Linked DNA regions of Homo sapiens: region 2 is linked to region 1. The links come from fine-mapping of genetic effects on gene expression. Tissue or cell type: whole blood. Region 1 holds a variant in brackets; the other region holds the start of a gene. All regions are shown on one strand. Distances are between the middles of the regions.

Region 1 (8,107 bases):
TCTCACCATGTTGCCTAGGCTGGTCTTGAACTCCTAGGCTCAAGCAATCTGCCTGCCTCAGTTTTCCAAAGTCCTGGGATTACAGGCATGAGCCACCATACCTGGCTATATTTTTTTTCTTTGGATATAAGAATTATGTTATAAAGTTACTTATAAATCAAGAAGTGATTTTTTTTCTTTTCCTTCTTGCATGAAGATTGAATTATATGTTAAGATAATAATCTAAAATTATGTTTAAAAAGCAGTTTGTAGAAATTTATCTAAAATTTATCTTAGAAAGTGGGGTAAGGTGCCTCATGCTTATAATCTCAGCGCTTTGGGAGGCCAAGGTGAGAAGGTCACTTGAGCCCAGGAGTTCAAGACCAGCCTGGGCAACAAAGTGAGACCTTGTCTCTACAAAAAAAAAAAAAAAATCAGATTAGCTGGACATAGTGGTGCATGCCTGTGGTCCCGGCTACTAGGGAGGCTGAGGCAGGAGGATTGCTTGAGTCCAGGAGGTCAAGGCTGCAGTGAGCCATGTTTACGTCAGTACACTCCAGCCTAGATGACAGAGTGAAACTCTGTCTTAAAAGTAAATTAATAAATAAACAAAATTTATCTGAGAAGAAAAATGAAAACAGTAGTTTGTGATCAACCTTATGGGGCTTAAATTTGAAAAGAACAAAAAAGTATTATCTATAAAGTGAATATATTATAGATATATATTCTATATATCTGCCATGAGTTAACTATATATATGTAACAATATATATTGCCATGCAATATAAATTGTTGCATGGCAACAATAATATAACATTATTCCAACAATGTATATAACAATATATATTGCCATGAGTAACAATAAACCAACAATGTACTTTGTTTGTTTTTTGAGGCACGGTCTCACTCTGTCACCCAGGCTGGAGTGCAGTGGTGCAATCTTGGCTCACTGCAACCTCTGCCTCCCAGGTTCAAGTGATTCTCCTGCCTCAGCCTCCCAAGTAGCTGAGATTACAGGTGACCGCCACCACACCCAGCTGATTTTTCTATTTTTTTTTAGTAGAGATGGGGTTTCACCATGTTGGCCAGGCTGGTCTCAAACTCCTGACCTCAAGTGATCCACCTGCCTTCGGCCTCCCAAAGTGCTGGGATTGCAGGTGTGAGCCACTGTGCCTGGCCTGTTTGTTTGTTTTTTATTTTTATTTTTATTTTTTTTGAGATGGAGTCCCACTCTGTCGCCCAGGCTGGAGTGCAATGGTGCAGGCTCGGCTTACTGCAACCTCCACCTCCCAGGTTTAAACGATTCTCTTGCTTCAGCCTCCTGAGTAGCTGAGATTACAGATGCGTGCTACCATGCCTGGCTAATTTTTTTTAATATTTTTAGTAGAGACGGGGTTTCACCATGTTGGTCAGGCTAGTCTCAAACTCCTGACCTCAAATGATCCGCCTGCCTTGGCCTCCCAAACTGCTGGGATTACAGGCGTGAGCCACTGCACCAGGCCTAACAATGTACTTTGAAATAATTTTAGGTAACTATATATGGTATCCTCTAATTTCTTGTCATATAGTTGTTTTTCCATCTTGTTTTATCATAAATCTGATTTTGGAAAATAAAAAATAATATTTAAACACTAAATCCAAGAATAAATCTCTCTTGGTAGATCACCAAAGCAGATACTTTAAAACAGTGGGTTAAAACTGTTCCAGGATTGTGTTTTCTACTACTAAAGGGATGTAATAACCTTTGAGTCACACTAGTCCAGCCTTCTTTCTTATGATTCTCATCCCAAAGTAGGCTTAACATGAGACAGAATTTATTTTGGATGAGTACTGAGCCAAAACAGTATCACGAAACGGCATTCTATAGAATGGGAAAATATTTGTAAATTATATATCTGATAAAAGATTCTTATCCAGAATACATAAAGAACTCCTACAACTCAACAACAAAAAACAAGCTGACTAAAAAAATGAGCAAAGGATTTAGACATTTCTCTAAGAAGGTATATAGGCGAGGCACAGTGGCTCATGTCTGTAATCCCAGCACTTTGGGAGGCTGAGGTGAAAGGATGGCGTGAACCCAGGAGTTTGAGACCAGCCTGGGCAATATAGTGAGACCTCATCTCTACAAAAATTTTTAAAATTAGCTGAGCGTGGTAATGCATGCCAGTAGTCACAGCTACTTGTGAGACTGAGATGAGAGGATCACTTGAGCCCAGGAATTAGAGGCTGTAATAAACTGAGATCACACCACGGCACTCCAGCCTGGGCAAGAGAGCAAGACCTTATCTCAGAAAATAATCTATGTCTGTCCTTTTTTACTAAGGACATGTTAACTCTCTCATTTTAGAACTGGTTTATTCAAAGGCAAGTAATGTTCTCTTACTCTCCTAACTCCCTGGTCATTCCTTGGAAATTTAGTAATGGAAAGAATAAAAATTATTCTCTCTCAAGAGGAATTAATTTAGTTTAAAGCTTAACAGGAAAACTTAGTAATAACTTCAATGAGGTTCATTGAGGAAGATCAACCAGTATTTCAATATGAAACAATTGAGTTTATAGGTAATATTTTTTTACCTTTTACTTTGAAAAACAGAAAAAAGTTACAGAAATAGTGGTGAGCACCCTTCACCTGGACTCACTTTTTTTTTCTTTTTTTTTTTTGAGACAGAGTCTCACTGTATCGCCCAGGCTGGAGTGCAGTGGTGATCTCGGCTCACTACAACCCCCACCTCCTGGGTTCAAGCAATTCTCCCACATCAGCCTCCCAAGTAGCTGGGATTACAGGTGCACACCACCACGCCATTCTAATTTTTGTATTGTTTGATAGAGACTGGGTTTCATCATGTTGGCCAGGCTGGTCTCAAACTCCTGATTTCAGGTGATCCTCCTGCCTCAGCCTCCCAAAGTGCTGGGATTACAGGTGTGAGTCATTGCGCCTGGCTACCAGTTGTTAACATTATGCAACATTTGCTTGTTATCATTCCTGTTTTTTTTAGACAGAGTCTCACTCTTGTCGCCCAGGCTGGAGTGCAGTGGCCCATTCATGGCTTACTGCAGCCTTGACTTCCCAGGCTCAATCAATCCTCCCATCTCAGCTTCCCGAGTAGCTAGAACTACAAGAGCATGCCACCATACCCAGCTAATTTTTGTTTTTTTATTTTTTGTAGAGAAGGGGTTTTGTCATGTTGCCCAGGCTTGCTTTGTCATTCTTTTTGTGTGTGTGTGAGTATATTCATAACATAAAGAGCTTGCAATCTCTATTGAAAGAAATCTCTCAACTCTTAAAAAAGACCATAAAGAGGATTTTACTACATATTTACTTTTTCAGTACTGACATATGATTCAGGTACATATGAAAGAAAGTTAATAACAGTTAACTTTCTTATGTGTTTTTTTTTAAAGTTAGTGTTTTTTTTAAAAAAGCACGTAAAGAAATATGATCACGGGTTTTTTGTTTGTTTTGGGGTTTTTAGGTTATTTCTTTTTAGAGAGGGAGTCTCGCTATGTTGCCCAAGCTGATCTCAAACTTCTGGCCTCAAGTGATCCTCCTGCCTTGACCTTCCAAAGTGGAGAGATTACAGGCATGAGCCCGTGTGCCCAGCCTAGTCATAGGTTTTAATGGATTTAATTTCCCACCAAATTACCAACTCCACTCTTATGAAAATCTAGAGAGTTTATTACTAATAAAAAAGAATTGATTACATGTTTTATTTCACACCTAGACTGAACTCCTAGTACAGTGAATTAGAGACAAATTCATAATTTATTGAAATTCCCCTTGCTGTGGGCACATATGTCCATAGTAGATGTAGCATTTGGTAGGAGTTTCAAGAAAAGCAGGGTAAATATTTCAGTGAATTCTCATACAGAGTTAAGAAAAAACTTACATGAAATATAAAATCTTAGACAGGATACACTTATAGACAACTAAGGATAATGATGAGTATCAGGTAGCAAGGAATATATTCTTCAGCTAGGTTCATAAGATATTACCCATTAAAGCTAGGCGCGGTGGGTCATGCTTGTAATCCTAGCACTTTAGGAGGCCAAGGAAGGTGGATTGCTGGAGCTCAGGAATTTGAGACCAGCCTGGGCAACATGGCCAAACCCCATCTCTACAAAAAATTCAAAA[A/G]TTAGCTGGATGTGGTGGCAATGCCTGTAGTCCAAGCTACTCAGGGGTTGGGGGGTTAAGGCAGGAGGATCGCTTGAACCCGGGACATCGAGGATGCAGTGAGCCGAGATCGTGCCACTGCATTCCAGCCTAGTTGACAAAGTGAGACTTTATCTCAAAGAAAAAGAAAAGATATTACCCATTAATAAACAATCACTTTTATTTTTAATTTTAAGCATATGTAGCAAGGGTATCTTTTCTCTTTGACCTCTTTTCCAGAGTACACTCATTTCATTTTATTTCTTAAACTCAGTAGTTATCCAGTTTGTTTTCAACATAGAAAGAATCCCTTTCAACTCAGTGGTCATCAGATTTAGACACAGACCAGTGTTTTGCGTAGCTGTGTCTGGTGTCATGGTAGAGCCACGGGGTATTAGTGTAGCAAAAAAGCAGAGACTTTGGGGTCAGAGCTCCTGGGTTTGGATATAAACTCTCCTATTTATATTGGGCAAATTACTTAATTTCTCTGTGCCTCATTTCCTTCATCTGTAACATATGATTATAGTACCTCGTGTTACAGAGTTGTAATAAAAATTAAATAAGCTAATGCATAAAAGAGCGTGCACAGAGCAGAGCTCAAAAAACATTCATTATTGGTCTAAATACTTAACAAAATCATACAGTAGTCATTTATTCCAGTTACTTCTGACAACCACCTAGTGGATACCTACCACATGCAGGTAAACTGAAAAGGAATAAAACGTGTCCCTAGGCATTAAGATGTTTACAATTTAGTGAAGAAAATAGATGTCAAACAAATAATTACAATATTATAAGAGCCTAATAGAGGTAGTACTATGAGATCAATGAAGCAGGAGTTACTAGCTCTGCTTAGGGAAGGCAGAAAAAAATTCCTATTGATTTTTCCTTTGTTCAGTGGAGTAAAAAAAAATACATAATGGTTTTGGGTATTCGTCCTACTGAGAGAGAGAACAGTGTGTGCGCGGGTGTGTGTGTCCTTATTTATTTGCGGGAGTCATGAAAGACAAATGCTTAGGAACTCTCCAGAATAAAAGAGACAATAGAAACATGACAATTTAGTGCTTCACTGACCAGTTCCTGTTTTGGGGGAAAATATTACCTTAAAGGATGTTATTAAAACAGTTGGCAAAATTGGAATATACACTATAGATTAGATTATGCAGTAGATTACTCGGTGTTAAATTTCCTGAAGTTGATCACTATACTGTGATTCTGTAAAAGAAAATCCTTGTTGTAAGATGAGCTATGAGAAATATTAAAGGAGTAAAGGAGAATGATACTATTTGAGAGTAATTTGTGATACATTTGACTTTTCCTTATATTCCAAAAACTACTGCAAAACCATTCAGCCGTAGTCCCCCTTCCTCTGGAAGGAACTGAGTGGATAGTATCACAACTACTAAAAAAACGATCTGCACACACTGGCACACAGAATGATGAAGCATGTGACAAAATGTTAAAAATTGGTGATTCAGAGTATTACAGGAGTTATTTGTGTTACTTTTACAACTTTTCTATAAATTTGATATTTCAAAAGAAAAAATTTAAGAGGGAAAAGGCATAATCAGAAGGCATCTTCAAGAGGAAGCATTTCAACTGTATCCTAGTGGCTAAATTCACCGGGTGGATAAGGAGGTCAGAGACTGTTGTGTAGAAAGCGAATGGGGGCATGAAAGTACATTACTTGTTTGCACATAGTTCAGTACAGTAATTTTTCTTTTCTTTTTCTTTCTTTTTTTTTTTTGGAGACAGAATCTCGCCTTATCACCCAGGCTGGAGTGCAGTGGTGCTATCTTGGCTTACTGCAATCTCCACCTCCTAGGTTCAAGTGATTCTCATGCCTCAGCCTCCTGAGTAGCTGGGATTACAGGCATGCACCACCACGTCCAGCTAATTTTTTTTTGTATTTTTTATTTTTATTTTCATTTTTTTGCGGGGGACAGAGTCTCACTCTGTCACCCAGACTGGAGTGTAATGGCACAATCTCAGCTCACTGTATTCTCTACCTCCCATGCTTAGGTCATCCTCTCACCTCAGCCTCCCAAATAGCTGGGACTACATGTGCACATCACCACGCCCGGCTAATTTTTGTATTTTTTGTAGAGACAAGGTTTCTCCGTGTGGTCAGGCTGGTCTTGAACTCCTGGGCTCAAGTGATCTGCCCGCCTTGGCCTCCCAGTATGTTGGGATTACAAGTGTGAGCCACCTTGCCTGGCCCAGTAATTTCTGTGTAAGATGTTTGGAACACATTCTTTTAAGTATCTGTAGAATATTAGTTGGATATTCATTAATATGATGTTTATCAAATCTCACTGCTGAAAATTCAAGAAATATTTAGCAAATTATCAGATTATTATGCCAAACAGAGCCGTTGTTTAATATACTTCCATTACCAGGAAATCCCACTCTAAATATCCTCAATTTTGTTCTCCTTTACAGCTTATAATTATTACATGGTTATTTAAAAATGACACGTGGAAGAGTTTGAGCAGCCTTAAGACCAAGTAGACAATGAAAATCATACCTTTTTGGTAGGATATCACTACTGGTGATAATTTAGATATTTGGATAAACAAAAACAAGAATAAAACAGTTCTAATTAAGTGTTTGATGTCATCAACATTCATATTTATTAAAGAAATATTTTAGAGTGGAGCTGAGAAGACTTTCTGTAAGAAATCTTTAAAGCAGCAAAATAAGTGATTTTGCCAGTAACTTTCACCTGTAGAAGTCAGAATAACCAAGCACAGATCTTTTTTCAAACTTTCTATGATATTTTGACTTTGCTTCCATCCTTTCTATTGCTTAGTCTAGAGATTAAGGTATTACTTCTAATAATAGTCATTTACATTATTTATGTTGCTAATCTCTTGATGACAAGACCTCTACATGTGTCTTGAAATAAAATCAAATGGCTCTGTGCTTCATATAGAGACTAATTTCTAAGACATAAATAAAAGGTAATGGACAAAGTTGTCAAACAATAGCCAGTTAGTTCTTTGCTGAGGAAAGGGAACCATTGCTGAATGCTTTTGAGATTGCTCTTGGAATATAAGGAAAATTTTAATTTATCACAAAATCTCTAATAAGTTAAAGATCACAAAATAGATTTAAGTTTTTAAAAATTTTCTGAAGTGATCATAATTCCCCATATCCTTGCATAAATATATATTTATAAATACATAATATATATAATATCTATATGATGTTCCACTTTGAACTCTTCTTTCAAAAGATTAAAACAGTTTGAGGGCAGCCTGGGCAGCATAGTGAGACCCCATCTCTACAGAAAAATTAAAAAAAAAAATTAGCCAAGCATGGTGGCACACATCTGTAGTTCTAGCTACTTGGGAGGCTGAGATGGAAGGATCACTTGAGTCCAGGAGGTTGAGGCAAGGCTGCAGTGAGCCATGATCACCTCACCGTATTCCAGTTTGGGTGACAGAGTGAGACCCTGTCTCAAAAAAAAAAAAAAAAATCAAAACATTGGAGCACAATACAATACAATCTGAATTATTTATTATAAGTAAATTTGCTTTCTTTCTGAGAGTGAAATACAAGAGAACATTTTGGGGCAAATGAAATAGAACCAGAGTTTTAGAGATTAATAAGTCAGTTTCTAAATCTTCTAAAGATTGAGATAGAATTAATTTTCATGGTTTCTTGACATTTCATATTGTAAAAAATAGCAGTGGAATCCTTTGAGAGATGCTGTTTACGGAAAAGTTTATGATAGATTGAAGTGTTAAAAGTTAGTACCCTTGATTATGTTATATAACAAAGATTTGTAAACTTGAAATTGCTAAAACAAAGTAATCATTAGAGAATATGAAATAGTTTATAGTTACTTATTTTCTCTATTCATAGTTGCTAATGAATAAAAGTAAGTTGTAAGCTTCATGCTTTAGGTGTTTTAAACTTTTTAAATATGTTTGGAAAATGTGGCCTGGCACAGTGGCTCACACTTGTAAT
Region 2 (8,107 bases), 65 kb before region 1:
AATCTCATCTTGAATTGTAGTTCCTATAATCCCCAAGTGTCATGGGAGGGACCCGGTAGGATGTGATTGAATCATGGGGGCGATTACTCCCATGCTGCAGTTCTCATGATAGTGAGTTCTCACAAAATCTGATGGTTTTATAAGGGCCTTTTCCCACTTTTGCTCAGCACTTCTCCTTGCTGCCGCTATGTGAAGAAGGACATGTTTGCTTCCCCTTCCACCATGATTGTAAAGTTTCCTGAGGCCTCCCCAGCCCTGTGGAATTGTGAGTTGTTTAAACCTCTTTCCTTTATAAATTACCCAGTATTGGGTATGTCTTTATTGGCAGCATGCGAACAGACCAATACGGTAAATGCAGAGAAATTATTTGAGTCAAATGCTTATATAATAAAATGCTGCATTCCTTATATATATATATATATATATATATGAGGAACCATACTTGCAGTACTATACATCCTGCACTTTTCATTTTGCAGCATATCTTAGATAATGTTCCACAGAGGCCTGGTTATTTTAAAATAACTTTATAGGTTCCACTGTATGGATTTACTATTATTTATTGAACTAGTCCCCTATTCCTACTGATGATTATTTAAACTGTTTATTTCTAGGGCGTTTTTTGTTTTGCTTTACTTCTGGTATAATAAACAACACTGCAATGAATAACCTTGTCTCTAAGTGACTTCATGTAAGAGCAAGTATATCTACAGGACATATTCCTAGAATTTGCTAGGTCAAAGAGAAACTTTGATATTATCTAGTTCCCCTTGACAGAAGTTGAAACAATTTATAGTCCTAATACACTTACAATATATTAGAATGCTTGTTTCCTCATATCTTCACCATCATAGTGTGTAATCAAACTTTTTCATCTGTGCTATTCTAATAGGTGAAAAATGATAACAGTATAACCCCCAAAAGAGAATTATCTTTTTCTCCACATCCTCAACAGCATTTGTTATTATCTGTCTTTTGGATATAGGCCATTTTAACTGGGGTGAGATGATATCTTATTGTAGTTTTGATCTGCATTTCTCTAATGATCAATGATGTTGAGCACCTTGTCATATCCCATTTGCCATTTGTATGTCTTCTTTTTTCTTTTTTTGTTTTAAATTTTTTAAAAAGTTTTTTTATAGAGATGGGGTCTCATTATGTTGCCCAGGCTCGTCTTCAATTCCTGGGCTCAAGGGATCCTCCTGCCTCGGCCTCCCAAAGTGCTGGGATTACAGGTGTTGAGCCACTGTGCCTGGCCCCTTTGTTTTTCTTATTGAATTTTAGCCTTTTAATTTGTAGGAGCTCTTTTATATTTTACTGAAATTAACTACAAAAATGAATTGCACCAGCTTGGGCAACATGGTGAGACCCTGTCTCTACCAAAAATACAAAAAATTAGCCGGGCATGGTGACACGTGCCTGTGATTCCAGCTACTCGGGAGGCTGAAGTGGGAGGATCACTTGAGCCCAGGAGGCGGAGGTTGCAGTGACCCAAGATCATGCCGCTGCACTGCAATCCAGCCTGAGTTAGAGTAAGACCCCATCTCAAACAAACAAACAAACAAACAAAAAACCCACAAAAATGAGTTGCTGCTATTTTTTCCAGTTTGTCATTTTCCTTTTGGCTTATCTGGTGATTTTTTTTGCCCTTTTTTTTTTTTTTTTTTTTTTTTTTTAAAGAGACAGGGTCTTACTGTGTTGCCCAGGCTGGTCTTCAACTCCTGGCCTCAAGCTATGCTTCTACCTCGGCCACTGGAGTTGTTGGGATTACAGGCATGTACCACCATGCCCGGCTCATACATTTATAAAAATTGAATTTATCGGTCTTTTAGATCTTGTGTCATAGTGAAAGTGTCTTTTTCCGTTCTGAGGTTATAAATGAATCATTGTATGGTTTTATTGTTTACATTTAAATCTTTGACATATCTGGAGTTTTTGCTAGTGTATTGTATAGGGTATGGATCCAACATTTTTTCTAGATAGCCCATTTGTCTGAATGAGAAACTTTTTTTTTTTTGAGACGGAGTCTTGCTCTTGTTGCCCAGGCTAGAGTGCAATGGCGTGATCTAGCTCACCACAACCTCCACCTTCCGTGTTCAAGCGATTCTCCTGACTCAGCCTCCCGTGTAGCTAAGAATTACAGGCATGCGCCACCTTGCCCAGCTAGTTTTGTTATTTTTAGTAGAGAGGGGGTTTTTCCATGTTGGTCAGGCTGGTCTCAAACTCCCGACCTCAGGTGATCCACCCGCCTCGGCCTCCCAAAGTGCTGGAATTGCAGGTGTGAGCCACCTCGCCCGGCCCTGAATGGGAAACTTTTTACTGCTGTCATTCTTGGACTATCCTCCACATGCACGTGGATCATATTTCTGTTTGCTCAGCCCAGACATCAGAACTCAGATGCCTGTAGAGACTAGGCAAGTTACATAAAAGGGTGAAGAGTGCCAGGTGGGAAGTATAGCCAACTGGAAATGGATGGCATATTTTTATAAAGAGGGCAGCCACTACCCGGTGCCTGCTGATTACTCTCTTGCACGAATGCAGTAGGTCCCAGTGTTGCCAGATCTTTGTCAAGAGAAGCTGAAAATATACATTTTTATATGAAGCCTCTTGATTTTAAAATGTTAACAATTAAATTTAAATACAGCCTTAGCTAAACAAAATATGTCTTCAGGCCTGACTTGGCCCAGAAAAGCCTTCTGATATTCCTAGCCAAGAATGAGATTTCTAACAAGTTTACTCTCCTATGAGTAAAGAGAACATACATGGTCTAGTAGTTTGACATCACAGTAGTTTATAGCTGGAGTCTGGGAACAGGAGAGAAAAGTAAGGACCCTCTATATAAGCCAAAGTCTTCGCTCTCACAGACTGAAACATTAATGGGAGAAATACAAGCATTTTACCATCCCACCTTTTATCCCAAGTACATGTGAATGGATATGGCCATTTATTAGAGGATGTTCTTGATTTAGTGGATACTTTAGTGGATTAGAAAAATAATCTTATTTTCCAACTCTGCCATTCTGATTTTGCCCAAATGAAAAAGTGGTGCATGTTTTGGGGAGAATAATTGCTCAGCTACTGATGCCGGAACTGAATTGTAGTACTGACTTATTTTTTGTACCCTGTTCGTCTTTTCCCTTTCTCACTGCTGGTGGCTAGGGACAGGGAGTAAAATATCTTCTTTACAACCTGTTAAAAGTAATGTGCTCAGCCTCTTTAGTGGGATGAAATTTGTGGTAATGAGTTACCAGAGCCTATGCCTCTTTGGATTGAAAAGCTTGTCAGGATCTTTTCTGGGTTGCTAATGAGTGTTTCCTAGACGCCGATCCAGGTTTTGTAGGACCTGAAGCCTACACAATTTGGATGACACGATTAAGAAAACAATTCGAAAATATCTTGAAAGTTTTGTAAAAACGATATGATTTTGTGAACGCACAGGGGCCCGTGCAAGTGAAGGACCTTTCAATTCAAGCTTGATCAACGTCACTGTCATCTGCCCCTTCTGACCCTACCACCAGGCTAAGGGCTTTCCACGCCTCATCTCTCGGTCCCCACACCATCACCCTAAGAAATAGTTACTGTATCTCCTAACGATATATTATATATAGTACCTACTTTGTGTAAACATACGGTACTCATGAAAACAAGCCACGTAGAGCACAAATACGTTAAATATCCTGTCCAGCCCGAATGCCCCTTTCTCTCCACGTCCCTATGCAGCCTCCCACGACGGTAGTCCTGGGGCTCCAGCGCTACAAGAGTGGCACCGAGTCCGGATTGTCTTAAGCAGGTCGAGAGGAGGGAGCATATGGGTAAAAAGCAGTCAAACTGAAGAGTCTGGAGCGGCCCCCAGCACAGTCTCGGGAAAAGCGGACTCCCCCGGGGCCCCAGGCCCCGCACCCCCGCGCCGGGCTGGCGCCTGTGCCTGCTCCGCGGCGCGCATGCTCCGTGTTAGGCCTCTTGGGCTATTCGGGATAATGAGCGCCGGGCCGAGGGGGCGGGCCGAGCCTCGGCTGCTGGGACTCAGGGCTCAGCGGCGACCCCAAGGCACTCTGCGCTGCTGCTAAAGGGGCAGCAACGGCGGCCAGCGCTGTGCGCGCCATAGCGAGGCTCGCTCGCCCGACGCGCACTCCGGGTCGGTCCCCAGAGCTCTGTGGAGGTGACTCGAGTGGGCAGGGCCGGGCGGCGCTGTCGGCTGGGAGGGCGGGGAGGAGGCGATGAGGAGACGAGCAGCCGCCGCCGCCGCCGCCGCTGCTCACCGCCCGCCGCGGCCGTAGCGGGAGTCGGGGCGGGGCTGGGCCAGCTGTACCCCTGACGGGCCGCGAACCCAGACAAAGGAGGAGGAGCCGCCCCAGAAGCGGGCCAGCGCCGCCGGGAAAGGAGGTCGCCGCCCGGGGTCGCCCGGGCTTGCGGGTCGCCGCGCTTCCTCTGCGGGCGCTGCGGGAGGCGAGGGCCGCCTCGGCGGAGGAAGCCGACCCCGGGGTCTCCGCCAGCCCGCCGGCGCCGCCTCCGAGCCGCCTCGGCCGTAGCCTCGGCCCGGGCGGGAGGCGGCGGCCGCCGGCGAGGCGAGGCGGCCCGCGCCCTGCCTGTCAGGCCACCGGCCCGGCCCGCGGGCTGCCCCCGATGCGGAGGCGCTGTCGCCGGGGCCATGCAGCAGGCGCCGCAGCCTTACGAGTTCTTCAGCGAGGAGAACAGTCCGAAATGGCGGGGACTGTTGGTCTCGGCCCTGCGGAAGGTCAGTGCTAGGGGCGGGGCGGCCGGCGGGTGGCCCGTGGCCCCCCGAGCTTCTAACGGGGAGCAGGTCGTCCCTCCCACAGGGCTCGAGTCCCCGGGGCCGAGCCGTTTCTCGTTGGCTGGCAATGGGGGGCTCACAATTGCCTGTTGCATTCTGAAGGACGTTTCTCAAGTTTTTTTTTTTTGCCTGGTCCCGGAAGGAAGGTTTTGTTATGATCATAAAACTGGATTTCATGTTGCAGTCATTTCGTCAGGCAACTTCCGCCGTTGACCAATTTGTTGTCCTCAGGCTGGAATCGGGCAAGAGAAAGTCCCGCTGGTATTTAGACAGTTTCTAAAACAAAAGCACATTTTCAGGCCGGGTAATTACTTTTAATTAAGTTCTTTGGGAGTGTTCCCCCTAGGCGGTTTGCTTGTCAAGGGTATCCACTTATGAGGCAATGGTTTTTTGTAATATGGATGTTTCACATGTGTGAAATGTCAGTGAGTCATAATATTCTTATTCATTTTACAGTTCTCAAGGTAAATTTAAAGCGCCTTCCCACTTCCTGCAAACGGTGTCTTACCTGTTTACAAGAGATTACCCTTAGAAAATTTGGTCAGTGTCTTCAGTGTCTTCACGACCAAATTGCGATTTAGGACTTGAAATCATTTTAAGGAACAAGAAAGGGGCAACTCCTGCAAATCAGTCTTTCATGTTTGGGTGCATTGCTAGGGTGCATCTTTCCTGTAGATGGTGGCGGTCTTCCTCTGTGAATTTAGGTAGTAACCATACGATCATTTTTATAATAAATCCTTCTGTAAGATCAAGACATTTAAAGACTGTGAATAGGTGCGTGATCAGCTGTCATGCCTGTTGAGCAGGGGCTTTCTTTCTTTGCCGTTAATGCAGACTTAGTCTCTTCTGCCTTTTGTGCAAAATAACCAAGAATACATTCTAAAATAAGGAAAAAATAAAGATTAATTTAAAAGACTATACTTGGAAAATATATCCTCAGACATTAAATTTCTATAAATGAAAGGAAGTAGTGTATTTTAAAGTTAAAGACATTTTCCTCATGCGATGAGAGTTGCAGATTTTCCCTTATTTTCATAATTCTTACAAGGAAGTATTGCTTTCCTCAGGGCAAACACTAAGTCGTATCTTTTTAAAGAACCTGGCAGAAATGACTAGTGGCAGCTAGACAGTTATTCCATTGGTATACCAAGTGCTAAAGTATTAAATTGACCTTACTTCCATGTGCAGCCCAATTCTGTAAGGAGAGGGAAAGAAATGAAAAGTGTGCTGAGTGGTGAAAATGAACTCTGGCCTGAATTAAAAGCAAAGGGGGAAATGCCTAGATAGTAATTAGCCCTTTGACCACAGACAAGTGTGAGTGCAGTAATCAGGTAGGCCTATATTGTTGGCAATGTGACGCAGGTATATACCCATTTATAACTTTCTGGTAGCAAATAGTATTTGGGTGTGTGTTGCATAACTTGTTCAATAGGTAGCTTTGATTCTAATAATCCTTTATGTCCAGAAACAGATTTATGTTTTCTTTTTCTTCAAATAGAGACAGGGTTATGCTATGTTGCCCAGGCTGGTCTTGAACTTCTGGCCTCAAGCAGTCCGCCCACCTCTGCCTTCCAAACTGTTGGGATTACAGGCATAAACCACCTCGCACCAGACCCAGATTTTTTTTTTTTTTTTTCAAGTTAGGCTGGAGAAGCCAAGATTAGCATCCAATCCTAGTCCATTGCTTTGGTGCTATTACTTTGCATTTATATTGTGCTTGTTTTCCTGGAACTCAGGTGCCTTGTAGATACTATGTTATATTCCACAGTTCTAGTATGTTCTTTATGAAATAAATACATCTAAGAAAATTTGGTCTTTTGAGGTGAATTCAGAAAACATTTTCTATTAACTTACTGTTGTGATAGAATTGAAATACATACGTATGGAAAATTTTTTTATATTTTTGGAAAAATTTTGGTAAAAGTAATTAAGATTATGTCCACTTTTATGGTATTTAGGACATTGCAACTTGTAGGTCTGTAGTGCCTGCTAAGAGCTGTAGCTCTTAGGGAGCTAAAGGTTCACTCTTTCTTTGCAGGAAGTTTTAAATTCTGGTATGCATCAGCCACCTTGTCTTTGTAAAATGAGAATTTCTACCATTTTGGGGGAGTCTCTGTCTTCACATTCAGAGCATCTAGAACTTGGCATCCTTCCTCTAGCTGACCAGATCGTTACAAAGACAACTAGGATTTGATTGGAATATCTCTCTCCTTCAATTGGTGTTGCCATTGTACATGTGGTGTATTCTAGCTTCATTAATTCACTTAACCATTATTGAACACATTTTACATACTTGACATGATGCGGGATCCTAAGAGTACAAAGTTAAAATAAAGGCCCCTCCAAAGATGTATACCATCTAAACCAAAAATTCTAAAATTTGAGGTTTTGGTTTATGTAAATGAGAGCGGTTCTGAGCTCAGAGTTCAGTAAGGGGTATTTGTGTGTCTATGAAAGCAGCAATGTAGCTTACTTGGCTCTGTCAGTTTAGTCCACTTGGACATCTTGGTGGAACCTCCAAAACTGTTAGAACGTAATTTTCAGAAAGGTAAAGTCATCACTTCCATGCAAATGTAAATGAACATGTATCAATTATTTTGATTCAGCCCATTGATGAGGGAACTAGTAAGATGTTAAAGTCACTTAATATGAAAATTTGAGGAGGTATTTATAGGCAATTTAATAAGGGAATATTAAGACTGTTGGGTTACATACAGAATTAGTTAATACCCTACAAGAAACATAAAAGAGTAGGCTTTGGGTTATATTTTCCTCTGGCTAAAAATTACTTGCATCTCAGTGGGCGTGGTGGCTCACACCTGTAATCCAGCACTCTGGGAGGCTGAGGCTGGTGGATCAACTGAGTTTAGGAGTTCGTGACCAGCCTGGCCAGCATGGTGAAACCCCGTCTCTACTAAAAAATACCAAAAATTAGCTGGGTGTGGTGGTGTGTGCCTGTAATCCCAGCTGCTCAGGAGGCTGAGGCAGGAGAATCACTTGAACCTGCTAGGCAGAGGTTGCAGTGAGCCGAGATCACACCACTGCACTCCATCCTGGGCGACAGAGCGAGACTCCATCTCAAAAAAAAAAAAAAAATTACTTGCATCTCTATCTGCTGAAAAGCTGTAACTTAATCTTATAGATGTGTAAAATAGTCAGTAGAAATTAATAAAAGATTCAAGCATAGCACTGTACTGAAACACAGCCAGTATTCTTTTGCTTATTTTCCAGTTTTGGCTAGTTTTTATGAAAACTGGATATCTATGTCTATATCCATGTATATATCCATATATACCCATATATAGATCCATATAT

Evidence for each region. PIP is the estimated chance that this variant, and not a neighbour inherited with it, causes the effect.
Region 2: SOS2 starts here. The variant in region 1 is fine-mapped to the expression of SOS2 in whole blood (INTERVAL, PIP above 0.99).

What each region holds. Positions count from the first base shown.
Region 1 is chr14:50,162,404-50,170,510 of GRCh38, reverse strand. All of the region lies in intron 8 of SOS2 (SOS Ras/Rho guanine nucleotide exchange factor 2), which reads left to right. Among named protein-coding and RNA genes, the nearest start is that of VCPKMT, 50 kb to the right of the region's middle. The variant A/G (reference allele first, on the strand shown) is at 4,115.
Region 2 is chr14:50,227,825-50,235,931 of GRCh38, reverse strand. SOS2 (SOS Ras/Rho guanine nucleotide exchange factor 2) reads left to right here and starts at 4,354. Exons shown (of 23, transcript NM_006939.4): 1 at 4,354-4,735. The coding sequence starts at 4,649. RefSeq lists an enhancer at 3,443-3,532 and a silencer at 3,683-4,762.